4 separate regions of the Homo sapiens genome follow, and all the other regions are reported to be linked to region 1. The links are microRNA targets in miRTarBase. Many come from high-throughput screens and were not tested one by one. Region 1 holds a microRNA gene; each other region holds the end of a gene's coding sequence.

Region 1 (3,168 bases):
CGGAATCCCATTGGCCAGTTGGGGAAGCCCCTCCCAGGATTCCTGGCGCTCCGCCTTCCCTGAAGCCTATAAAAGCGCAGGTCCCCGCCTCGGCAGCCACGGGACACCTGCATCTGCCAACAAGACTGGAAGCAGGTGAGGCACACAGAGGGGGAGGCCCGCAGCTGCGTGGGAGGAGGGGTGGTCTGAGGGACGTGGGATGCCGGGAATGAGGCTGGTTTGCAGGTTGGCGCATGGACATTTTCCCAGAAAGGGACAGAGACGGCGAAGTTTGACGGTCTGGAAAGCAGAGACCAGCAGGGCTGACTGCTTGGGAGGTAAGTTCTGGGGACATGGTACAGGGTGAGGAGCAGGTATCAGTGCTAGTTGCGACCCCTCTGTGTCTCCCCCCCGCCACCCCATTGCCATTCTGAAGCTCCCCAGGAAGAAGCTAGGAGGGGAAATAAATTGAGTGGGGGTGGGGTTTCCCAAGAATCGGAGGAACCGAGAACGAAGAGGGGTGGGGGAACGGGGAAAGAGAGAGGAAAATCAAGTTTTCTTCAGCACGAGGGACAGCTCTCCACCGACCGAAGGAGGAGAATGCTATTTATTTCAGCACCAAATATCCGGACAGCGCCTCTCGGGAGGTCCGAGAAGAGAACCGCGATCTGTTTCAGCACCGGGGCTCAGGACAGTTCCCAGCGGGCTCCGTTTCGTCTCCAGAACCCTGGACAGCTCCTCCAGGTAACGGGAGAGCCCTTTGACCCTGATTTTGCAGGGGGAGGACGAGAGAGGGTGGTCTGAGGTGCCTGGCATTTCTGGAGACCTGCACCTCATGTAATGGATTTTTAAACAAAGTATTTTCCAGATAAGCACACACAGAAGTCTGCAATTTTCTTTTTTTTTCGAGACGGAGTCTTGCTCTGTCGCCCAGGCTGGAGTGCAGTGGCACGATCTCGGCTCACTGCAACCTCTGCCTCCTGGGTTCAAGGGATTCTCCTGCCTCAGCCTCCCGAGTATCTGGGATTACAGGCACATGCCACCACTCCCGGCTAATTTTTGTATTCTTAGTAGAGACGGGGTTTCACCATGTTGGCCAGGCTGGTCTCAAACTCTTGACCTCTTCATCCGTCCACCTCAGCCTCCCAAAGTGCTAGGATTACAGGCGTGAGTCACTGCGCCTGGCCCAAGTCCGGAATTTTCAACAGGTAAGATACCTCACTGGGGTAACAGCTGCCTGCTAAGATGACATTATGGTGTCTCTTCCAGACTTCGGTGAGAAACCTTGTGCCAAGCATTTTACATACATCATATCATGCCATCTTCAACCCTAGGACATGGGTGTTACTGTGCCCATGTGACATTTGGGGAACCCAAGGCCCTGAGAAAGGCAGAAAAATAACCCACGCAGGGACTCTCAGCCCACAAGTGAAGCTGTAAGTCAACCCCACCAGTCCAACTCCAAATCCCATGTCTCTGACGTGCCTGGGTGGGAGGTGGGCCCTTGGAGATCAGACCCTGCTTCTCTCCAGGAGAACCGGGAATGGAAAACAGGGAGGCAGCACAGAGGCAGGAAACTCAGGTGTCATAGCTTGGCTCAGGTGAGAAGGAGGAGCTGGGCAGGGGTCTCAGACATGGGGCAGAGGGTGGTGAAGAAGATTAGAGTGGCTGTGGTCTAGTGCTGTGTGGAAGACTAGTGATTTTGTTGTTCTGATGTACTACGACAACAAGTCACAGCCGGCCTCATAGCGCAGACTCCCTTCGACCTTCGCCTTCAATGGGCTGGCCAGTGGGGGAGAACCGGGGAGGTCGGGGAAGAATCGCTTCCACTCGGAGTGGGGGGGCTGGCTCACTCCAGGCGATACAGGCACAGGCAAAGGAGGGAAGCAAACAAGGACATACATCCTGTGCTCATACAGCCATGCACCATGTATGGGGTTTGTCACATCACTCGTACGCCCCCACAAGCCTGGAGATAGAACATACCTGACTCTAAACCCAAGACCTCTAACCACCTTATGGCGCTTTCCTGGGAGACCCAATGAGGGAATGACATTTAAAGCCCTCCCTAGACCAGAGTTCTCAGGGTACTTTTCTATTAAAAAAAAAATTATTATTTTTTTGGCCGGGTGGCTCACGCCTGTCATCCCAGCACTTTGGGAGGCCAAGGCAGGTGGACCACTTGAGGCCAGGAGTTCAAGACCAGCCTGGACAACATGGTGAAACTCCATTTCTCCTAAAAATACAAAAATTAGCTGGGCGTTGTGGCACACACCTGTAGTCCCAGCTACTCGGGAGGCTGAGGCATGGGAATCCCTTGAACCCAGGAGGCAGAGGCTGCATGACCCAAGATTGCACCACTGCACTCCAGCCTGGGCAACAGAGAGAGATTCTGTCTCAAAAAACATTTTTTTTTTCTTTTTTGTAAAGACATGGTCTCCTGCCTCAGCCTCTCAAAGTGCCAAGATTACAGGTGTGAGCCACCGAACCCAGCCTAAGGATACTTTTCAATAAAAGTTCCAGAAGTGGGCTGGGTGTGGGAGCTCATACCTGTAATCCTAACATTTTGGGAGGATGAGATGGGAGGATTGCTTGAGTACAGGAGTTTGAGACCAGCCTGGGCAATATAGTGAGACCCCGTGAGTTGACACATGCCTGTAGTCCCAACTACTTAGGAGGTGGGAGGAACACTTGAGCCTGGGAGATCAAGGCTGCAGTGAGCCATGACTGCACCACTGCACTCCAGACTGGGCAACAGAACAACACCCTGTTTCAAAAAAAAAGTTTCAGAAAAGATTCCTTTCCTGTCTGCTACCCATCAGTGTCATGGGCCAATCATAGGACAAGTGTGAACTTGTGCCCAGTGGTGACTTATGACATCATAAAGGCTCACCACCTTTGCCAGACATGGTGGCTCACACTTGTAATCCCAGCACTTTGGGAGGCCAAGGTGGGAGGATAGCTTGAGCTCAGGAGTTCGAGACCAGCCTGGGCAACATAGCAAGACCTCATCTCAGTAAAAAATAATAAATAAATAAATAAATATATAAGACTCACTCCCAATTCTCTGCAACACCCTAATCAAGTGAAAAACTGCACATGGTTACCTGTTCTCCAGCCTCAGGGCTTTTGCCTCTGCTGTTCCTGCAGCTTGGAATGCACTCCCTCCACCTCCAACCAGAGCTCCCC
Region 2 (3,000 bases), not on the chromosome of region 1:
AACACTAGCACTCCTGGTGCTAGCCCACTCCTCTGATGTGCTAGAGAATGTCTTCTCCTCTCTGACAGATGACAAGTATGATGTGGCAATGAATCGAGCCAAGGACTTAGTAGAACTGGACCCTGAAGTGGAAGGGACAAAGCCTAGTGCCACAGAAATGATCTGGGCTGTGCTGGCAGCCTTCAATAAATCTTAAAGCCGGCAGGTGGATTTCTCCTTTTCCCCTGCTGGCTGGTGACTGTCAGAGACCCCATCACTGAGTTTTGTGTGATGAGATGTTTTCATCATTTTTGTTTCCTTTTCTTGAATCAGACTTGTGATTTGGGGAGAGCAACTTCAGGGCTTCTCCATAGACCTTGACCATTATAAGCAGACCTTATTTCTCCCTACACTTCCACTCCATAGGTAAATAAACTGGGTGAAGCCACACACACCCAATGAACATTTTCTCCCATTTGGTGGTTTAGTTTCACCCAGTGTGCTTTTGGATAAGCAGAAATATCTAAATGGGATTTTGAGTTCTCCAGCTATAGAATGTGAATGAGATAAAAAGTGAACTATCTATTATATTTTTCTGAGTTTGTTTTCTATCATAAATACATGTTTTCACAGCCTTTGTCTCTCAGACTCTGCTAAATAATGTAGCTTATTGAAATAACTGTCGCTGAATAAGGAGCAATGAGAAACAAAACTAATTTTTGGAGCAGATGGTCTCTGGAATTGCATATCCTGCTAGTGATTTTCTCATCTTTCCTTTTCTAACCTAATGAGAATGTCCCAGATTCAATTACCTGGATGTCAAAGTCCTAGAGCCAGAAATATATTCTCTCATCCCTCTTAGCATTCTCTTGCTCCCTCATTCACTAGGGCAAATGTCTAAATGAAGAAAAGTCTCTCTCAACACCTCGTTCATGCAATCAGCATTAGAATTTGTAAGGAAGGAAGGGGGGTGGCATGAAAATTTCCATTCTTGGGGTATATGACTGTCCTGTTTCCCCCAGGCCACTTTTTTTTTTTTTTTCTTTTGAGACAGGGTCTTGCTCTTGCCCAGGCAGGAGTACAGTAGTGCAATCACAGCTGACTGCAGCCTTGACCTCCAGGGCTCAAGGATCCTCCTGCCTCAGTCTCCCAACTAAGTGGGACTACAGGCACGTGCCACCATACTCAGCTTTTTTTTGTTTGTTTTAGACAAGAGTCTCGCTTTGTTGCCCAGGCTGGTCTTGAATTCCTGGGCTCAAGCAATTCTTCCACCTCAGCCTCCCAAAGTGCTGAGATTACTGGCTTGAGCCACTGCACCCACCCCTCCAGACTACTTTAAATGTCTCTGCTCTGACTGAATTGAAGGAATTGTAAGTTTCAGTTGCTGAATATATCAGTATATCTGAACTCCAGATCTTTTTATTTCCTATTTTTGGCTTCCTACATAAATTAATAAAGTCTGTCTATATTTAAGGTTTCTGGGAGTAGTTTTGTCTATATTTAATCCATAGATGTGCTCCTAGTCATCAGTCTTATTTCAGTAAAACCATCTTTCTGGCCAAATCTCTAACACGTTTTTTACTTCAGTAGTGAGGGCAATGAGAAGCTTTATTAAGAAAGATCCTATTTAAAGGGCTAATTTGGTATTGAAAGCATGCTGATATAAAGTCCAGTATTTGAGGATATAAAGAGGATGTGCACTGAGCTGTGCTGATGTTCAGCATTTATTATACTTTAATGGGATAGTGCTTCTTGACCATTATAGAACAACAAACTGTCAAAGGGTTAATACAGATGACCCAGACCTGACATTAAATCCTCTTGATTAGAAATAATTAAATGAATTATTTATTCATTTCTCTCCTCTGCCAAATCTACTTAGCCCCACAAAAATGCCCCAGCTCAGTTAACATTTTTTTGTTTTTCACTTTAGGTATCTCTTAGGCAAATAGAGATATAAATTGTAATAGGAAACAGTCTCTAAATGTGAGGCTGAATACAGCTTCAGTCTGGCTCTCTAATAGGACAAAAGCCAGTCCATGTGTTGTCTCTAACTGATTTAGCTTTTTCTTTTCTTTGAACAATTCGGCATGAATTGAAACCAGGTTTTCCTGTGGAAAGTTATAGCTTGATTGGGAGATAGAAGTTGAATTGAGTTCTTTCTTGCAACTCTTAGTGTTTATTTTTATATCTCAGTAAGACGAGGATACCTTCAGTTTGAATCTGCATAATGTTCACTGCCAAACTCCTTCTCATTTAATGCTTATGGCCTTCACATTTCTGTATAATAAAGATCAATTATCAGCTCTCTGGTCTCTCTGTGCACAATTTTATAATTTAAATTGTTTTAATTGGAACTAAGGACTTTCTACACAAGGCTATTAATGCCTCCCCCTTTACACTAGCATACCAGCTTGTTTTATCCTATGTAGAAAATGAGGGATACAAAAACAATTGTAACATACATAGGCTGAGGGGCAGGACATGTCAAAAGCTGACCACATGAACACCAGCTAATACTATAAAGCCTAAATAGTGTCTCCATCTCAATCAAAATAAATTAGCCAATTATACCATTATTACCATGAAGAGAATGAATATGATCTGTTCTACTAATATCTACTTGCAAATGACACCTGAATTTAGGAGTTGAAAATCTTAAGTTCCAAATGTAGGTGACATGCCTGACTATAACAGAGTTAACATGTAAAAATGTAAGTGTGCTTATAATTGGCTTATTGTTCTCCCTTTCTTTATCTATAGCACAAGGGACAATAATACATTTGTTTATTAGGATTGTTTATACTTTTCTAATATTTTTATTTAAGACAAAGTACTATTTCCATAAGTCATGCTTTATACAATGTTTCTCAAAGTATATTGCAAAGACCATTGCACCAAAATGTGTGTGTGAGATAGGAGGGTAGCTTGCTAAAATGCAGATCCTAGTAAATCAGTCTCTGGAGTTAGGAGGAAGCTGCATTTTAAAGAAATTCTCAGCCAGGCGCGATGGCTCATGCC
Region 3 (3,168 bases), not on the chromosome of region 1:
TTCATTTCATCCTGTTTCCCCATCTGGAAAGTGGGCTGATCATAAACATGGTTCACCTGTGGCAGGGATGATTCATGTGATTATGCCTGCAAATGCCTGTCAAAACTCAGTGCTCAATGCTATTAGCCATTTATGCCATGGAGATGGGACAGAGGCCCAGGAAGGACAAGCTGGCTAGCCAGGGCCACACAACAGGGCAACCCCAGGGCTGGGAGTGACCACCAAGAACTACCCTCCACTTGCCAGCCCCCAGGGGAGTTTAAGCCACAGGCTCTCTTCGCATCCCATCATATCCCTCTCCCACCCCCCCGTCCCCCACCCCCAGGATGGACTCGCCCTCAGCCACTGTGGTCAGCGCTGTGCAGTCCAGGTGCAAAACCGGTGAGTCCTCTTGCCCCGAGAACCCATGGTGGGGTGAGGGTGAGGGTGTAGGGGATCATGATCCTAAAGGCATCATTTTAAGTGGCTCCCAAACCTCCAGCCCCTTCCCTCCCCTACCCCTTATGTTCCCTGTAGCTGCCTCCAGATCAGGCCTCTCCAAGGCCCCCTCCCGAAAGAAGAAGGGCAGCAAAGGCCCCGTGATCAAAATCACCGAAATGTCAGAGAAGTACTTCTCGCAGGAGTCGGAGGTCTCAGAGTAAGGCGGCTGGACCCCAGGAACCCCAGGGCACTCCACTGCAGCAGGAGGGACTTAAGCTAGACTCAAGAAAGCAGCTTGGAGCCTCTAGGTTGAGAAGAGAGGCAAAACCTGATATTGAACTGAGAGAGGGGTTCAAAACTGACTGTGTTTTGTGGGCTGCCAGGGTGGGAGAGGAGCATCACCAGCTCCTCAGAGCCACTCCGCTCCATATCAGTATCTCACAGTCCCATCCTTCCAACCTTCTGGCCAGAGGTTTTCCTGATGGGTGAGTCGGAATTAGGGGTCAGTTTTGTCTCCACCTCCTCGCTCCTCTGAGGCTCCTCCTCCAGCATCAGGCTCTGCCAAGGCCCCTCTGACTCTTGCCCAATCCTTGACCTTGACTCCTATCTCAAGCCTTGCCTTGTCTCTGCCTCGGAACTGGGACTGGGACTGGCTCATCCACCTATGTGCGGGAGCCGAGGAGGACGGCGTGGGCCCTGTCCTGTATCTGGAATTCCTGGGAAGGCTGGCTGCTGAAGACCCTCTTGGCTTTCCCGTGCTCTTTGGGCTCCCCAGAGACCTGACAGTATTAGGGAGTGAAGGGAGGAGGGGCCCTGGCTATTTGGGACCTAAGCCTAGGCCCCAGAGATCAGCCCGAACACCCGCATCCCTTCCTCCTCCCATGGGTCCCTCCCAGTAGGCAGTAGTCAGAACTGGATGGGCTGCCCCCAGCCAGCTCCCAGCAGCTTCTCCGGAAGCTGCTCTTGCCATAATCAACTCCCTGGGAGTGGAAGCCAGATGGCAGCTTGAGATTGGGCAGGAGCATTCGATCTTCCTTTCACCTCCCTGCCATGCTGGGGTCCTACCCAGCCTGGATCTGAGCTCTGTGCCCCCAGCCGGGTTGTTCCCAGCCTGAGCACCGGGCTTTGGTGCACCAGGCCTTGGAGACCCCTGGTCCCACCCCTGCCGTGAAGCCCCAGGCCCACTTCCCAAGAATCTCACTTCTCAGGGCCTCTGTTCTCCTCTCCACTGGGCCAAATAGCCTGGCCCTCCCCTCCTTGGCATTCATGGGGGAGCCCAGGAACCCCCCACACCTATGGGGTTAGAGCTCCTCCTTTCTTCTCACTCCTTCCCCTTCCTCCCTCCATGCCCACTCCCCCTGCCTCCAGCAGGCCAGGAAGAAGGCACAGTCCAGGCAAGTCTGGGAGCTTCCAAGCCCTTGAGGTCCAGCTGTGGGGCCCAAATGACAGCCTTACAAGGGTTCTACCAGAGAGGAAAATTCCACATCCCACCAGAAGACAGGGGTGTTGGCAGGCATACTCCTATCTCCTCCTCTTGGCTCTCAATGCTGAGGCTTGCAGAGGCATCCCAGCGGCACCAGCCTCCCACTGCACAGCTTCCTTCCCTCCTTCACTCTCCTCTCCCCTCCCTGCCCCTTGCCTCACCTCCTCTTCTAGACTGCATTAGATTCATTCATCTCATTTGCCAGGACATGTTGGCCAGAGGTCTGGGCCCATCCCAGGCCTCAAGGCCCTCCAGGCCTGTGGGGAGCACTGGAGGGTTACTGACTCTCTGGCCATGGGAACTCAGAGATTCTCATCCCCAAAGTCCCAAAAGAGGGTGCTGATTGGTGCTTTTCCTCAGGCTCTTCATTGGTTTCCAAGGGAGCAAATCCTCAGTGGGGATACAAGACATATAAAGTATATATTATTTTTTCATAACTTATGTGGCTTTTAACTTATTGCTTCCCTTCCTGTTTCTGCATGATCAGTCTGTATGTACTATCTGGAAAGATAACACATACTCCAGCCACCTCACCTGATTGGCTATCTTGGGGCCATGTCCCCTTCTTGCTGCCACAGGATGAATAAAGTGTTGAGATTTGTCTATGGAGAAAGCTGTGTGTCTGTTTTTATCTCCCCTCTCAGGACCAGTCAGCCACTGGTCAATCAGGCTGATCATGGAACATTAGGAATTCTCCAATTAAGGGAGAAAAAGTCCAGGGACTTAGTTATATCTTCAGACCAGTGCAGCTGGTACACACAAAGTTCTCCTGTCTCACCATCTGATATGGTTTGGATGCTCGTCCCCTCCAAATCTCATGTTGAAATGTAATTCCCAGTGTTGGAAGTGGAGCCTGGTGGGAAGTATTTGGATCATGAGAGAGGATCCTTCATGAATGGCTCAGCACCATCTCCTTGGTGATGAGTGAGTTCTCACTCAATTCACATAGATATGGTTGTTTAAAAGAGTCTGAGACCTCTCCCCTCTTTCTCGCCATGTGATATGCCTGCTCCCCCTTCACCTTCCGCCTTTACTGTAAGCTTCCTGAGGCCCTCACCAGAAGCTGAGCAAATGTTGGTGCCATGCCAGTACAGCCTGCAGAATTGTGAGCCAAAATAAATGTCTTTTCTTTATAAATTACCAAGTCTCAGGGATTTCTTTCTTTTGTGTATGTGTGTGTCTGTGTGTGTGTGTCTGTGTGTGTATGTGTGAGACAGAATCCTGCTCTGTCATCCAGGCTGGAGTGCAGTGGCTGGATCTCGGCT
Region 4 (3,152 bases), not on the chromosome of region 1:
TATCTATATTTATGTGAATGAAGAAGCACTGGTAATTTTTTAAGTGCCCAGGTGATTGAAATGTATAGCCAGATTTAACAGCTTGTTATATTTAAGGTAAGGAAGAAGTAGAAGACATAATTTTTGCTCTTAAGGAGGCTATAATCTAGGTAGAAATAAGCACATGTACGTGAATCAAAAAAGCAATTATAAATCAATATAATAATGCCATATGTGCTTTATGTAAGATATAGCATAAATCATATAATTATTAGAGGTACAGGGAATGAATATGGTAATCAGTGTATGTTGAAATTAAATAAGAAAGACTTCTTGGAAGTAAATGTTGAATTTTGTCTTAAAAGAGGAGAGGGGCAAAATCATCCTAAAATTGCTATTTCTTTTTAAAGATGAAAGTCTACAGCTGGTAAACCATGAAGCAAATTCTGTGGCAGTGGATGTTATTCCTCATGTTGACAACCCAACCTTTGAAGAAGACGAAACTCCTAATCAAGAGACTGCTGTTCGAGAAATTAAATCTTAAAATCTGTGTAAATAGAAAACTTGAACCATTAGTAATAACAGAACTGCCAATCAGGGCCTAGTTTCTATTAATAAATTGGATAAATTTAATAAAATAAGAGTGATACTGAAAGTGCTCAGATGACTAATATTATGCTATAGTTAAATGGCTTAAAATATTTAACCTGTTAACTTTTTTCCACAAACTCATTATAATATTTTTCATAGGCAAGTTTCCTCTCAGTAGTGATAACAACATTTTTAGACATTCAAAACTGTCTTCAAGAAGTCACGTTTTTCATTTATAACAATTTTCTTATAAAAACATGTTGCTTTTAAAATGTGGAGTAGCTGTAATCACTTTATTTTATGATAGTATCTTAATGAAAAATACTACTTCTTTAGCTTGGGCTACATGTGTCAGGGTTTTTCTCCAGGTGCTTATATTGATCTGGAATTGTAATGTAAAAAGCAATGCAAACTTAGGCGAGTACTTCTTGAAATGTCTATTTAAGCTGCTTTAAGTTAATAGAAAAGATTAAAGCAAAATATTCATTTTTACTTTTTCTTATTTTTAAAATTAGGCTGAATGTACTTCATGTGATTTGTCAACCATAGTTTATCAGAGATTATGGACTTAATTGATTGGTATATTAGTGACATCAACTTGACACAAGATTAGACAAAAAATTCCTTACAAAAATACTGTGTAACTATTTCTCAAACTTGTGGGATTTTTCAAAAGCTCAGTATATGAATCATCATACTGTTTGAAATTGCTAATGACAGAGTAAGTAACACTAATATTGGTCATTGATCTTCGTTCATGAATTAGTCTACAGAAAAAAAATGTTCTGTAAAATTAGTCTGTTGAAAATGTTTTCCAAACAATGTTACTTTGAAAATTGAGTTTATGTTTGACCTAAATGGGCTAAAATTACATTAGATAAACTAAAATTCTGTCCGTGTAACTATAAATTTTGTGAATGCATTTTCCTGGTGTTTGAAAAAGAAGGGGGGGAGAATTCCAGGTGCCTTAATATAAAGTTTGAAGCTTCATCCACCAAAGTTAAATAGAGCTATTTAAAAATGCACTTTATTTGTACTCTGTGTGGCTTTTGTTTTAGAATTTTGTTCAAATTATAGCAGAATTTAGGCAAAAATAAAACAGACATGTATTTTTGTTTGCTGAATGGATGAAACCATTGCATTCTTGTACACTGATTTGAAATGCTGTAAATATGTCCCAATTTGTATTGATTCTCTTTAAATATAAAATGTAAATAAAATATTCCAATAAAAGTTTGTGTCTGGTGTTAGTTTAACTATCTGTATTAGGATGTTTCTTGTGTCACTATAAAGGAATACCTGAGACTGGGTAATATATAAGGAAAACAGGATTAATTGGCTCATGGTTTTATAAGCTGTATAGTAAGCATGGGGCCAACATCTGCTTCACTTCTGGTAAGGGCCTCAGGAAGTTTACAGTCATGATGGAAGGCTAAGTGGAAACACATCACATGACAAGAGCAGGAGGAAGAGAGAGAGAAGCAAGAGGTCCCAGACTCTTAAATAAGCAGATCTTGCATGAACTGAGTGAGAACTCACTTATCACCAAGGGGATGATGCTAAATCATTCATGAGGGATCCACCTTCATGATCCAATCACCCCCACCAGGCCTCACCCCCGACATTGAGAATCACATTTCAACATGAGATTTGGAAGGGACAAATATCCAAACCTTATCACTGTCCATACACTAATTTTTCTCATATAATATGTCTGGATTTGGGAGATAAGAAAATGGTTGGATATAAATGGTCATTTATATATTTGATCAATAAACACTGAAACATTAGTATGATATATTTACATATTACATAGAGAGGAATGGATGCCATTGTAGTATCATTCAACTTACCATGAATTATTGTTAAATGTCAGCCAGGTAAAAAGGGTTTGACCAGTAATAATATAACATTAAAATAGACCTTGATGCCAGTCCATCTTCATGCTATACATGACAGAGGAACTTTTATTACTTTAAAGTTTTTCTTCAGACTTCTCTTTGTCAGTGTGATTGTCAGGATGCTGTTAATAAGTTAAGTGCATCTTTCTTTTGTCAAGCATGTTAAGAATACACAGATGCTTGGAACGCCTCAGCACTATGATTATCAAACCAGGTACATGTGTCTTATGTGACGATATGCCGGGGACGAGGGTGGATGTGTGATGCCTGTATTCTTGCCCTATATTCTTAGATAGTTAACCTCTTTTCAAGTTTTGTGGGACTTCTTTGGGGGCATTTTTAAGTGTTTTTTAACGGCTGTACTGAAGTATAATTTACCCATTGTAAATATATCATTGGAATGTGTTTAGCAAATGTGTAGATATGTACAACTATTACCACAATCCAGTTTTAAAACACTCCATCACCCCAAAACATTCCCTCATGCCCATTTACAGTTAGTTCCCCCTCCCATTTCCAGCCCCACATCACCACCAATCTGCTGTTTCTATAGATTTGTCTATTGTGGACATTTCATATAAATGGAATCATACATTATAGGCCTTTTGTGACTGGCTTCTTCCCCTTAGCATAATGTTTTCAAGGTTCCTCCATGTTGTAGCATATAACAGTATTTCGTTC

Evidence for each region. The annotated mature microRNA hsa-miR-7-5p reads UGGAAGACUAGUGAUUUUGUUGUU and lies in region 1 at 1,666-1,689, shown strand. An mRNA with a match to its seed (bases 2 to 7 or 8) in the 3' UTR can be bound and repressed. Matches are read on the target gene's strand: a 7mer-m8 pairs with bases 2 to 8, a 7mer-A1 pairs with bases 2 to 7 and ends in A, and an 8mer does both.
Region 2: miRTarBase lists GOLPH3L as a target of hsa-miR-7-5p. Seed matches in the 3' UTR shown: 7mer-A1 at 1,244-1,250.
Region 3: miRTarBase lists KRT80 as a target of hsa-miR-7-5p. The part of its 3' UTR that is shown has no 7-base or 8-base seed match.
Region 4: miRTarBase lists RNF128 as a target of hsa-miR-7-5p. The part of its 3' UTR that is shown has no 7-base or 8-base seed match.

The regions. Positions count from the first base shown.
Region 1 is chr19:4,769,035-4,772,202 of GRCh38, forward strand. It overlaps MIR7-3 (microRNA 7-3), which reads left to right and starts at 1,636; the gene lies at 1,636-1,745. MIR7-3HG (MIR7-3 host gene) reads left to right here and starts at 71. Exons shown (of 3, transcript NR_027148.1): 1 at 71-317; 2 at 596-723; 3 at 3,130-3,168. RefSeq lists a silencer at 503-797.
Region 2 is chr1:150,645,517-150,648,516 of GRCh38, reverse strand. It overlaps GOLPH3L (golgi phosphoprotein 3 like), which reads left to right. Exons shown (of 5, transcript NM_018178.6): 5 at 1-2,287. The coding sequence ends at 196. Among named protein-coding and RNA genes, the nearest start is that of ENSA, 17 kb to the right of the region's middle. RefSeq lists an enhancer at 1,151-1,652.
Region 3 is chr12:52,168,871-52,172,038 of GRCh38, reverse strand. It overlaps KRT80 (keratin 80), which reads left to right. Exons shown (of 9, transcript NM_182507.3): 8 at 326-381; 9 at 517-3,043. The coding sequence ends at 641. Among named protein-coding and RNA genes, the nearest start is that of KRT80, 22 kb to the left of the region's middle.
Region 4 is chrX:106,795,191-106,798,342 of GRCh38, forward strand. RNF128 (ring finger protein 128) reads left to right here. Exons shown (of 7, transcript NM_194463.2): 7 at 390-1,826. The coding sequence ends at 523. Among named protein-coding and RNA genes, the nearest start is that of TBC1D8B, 5.9 kb to the right of the region's middle.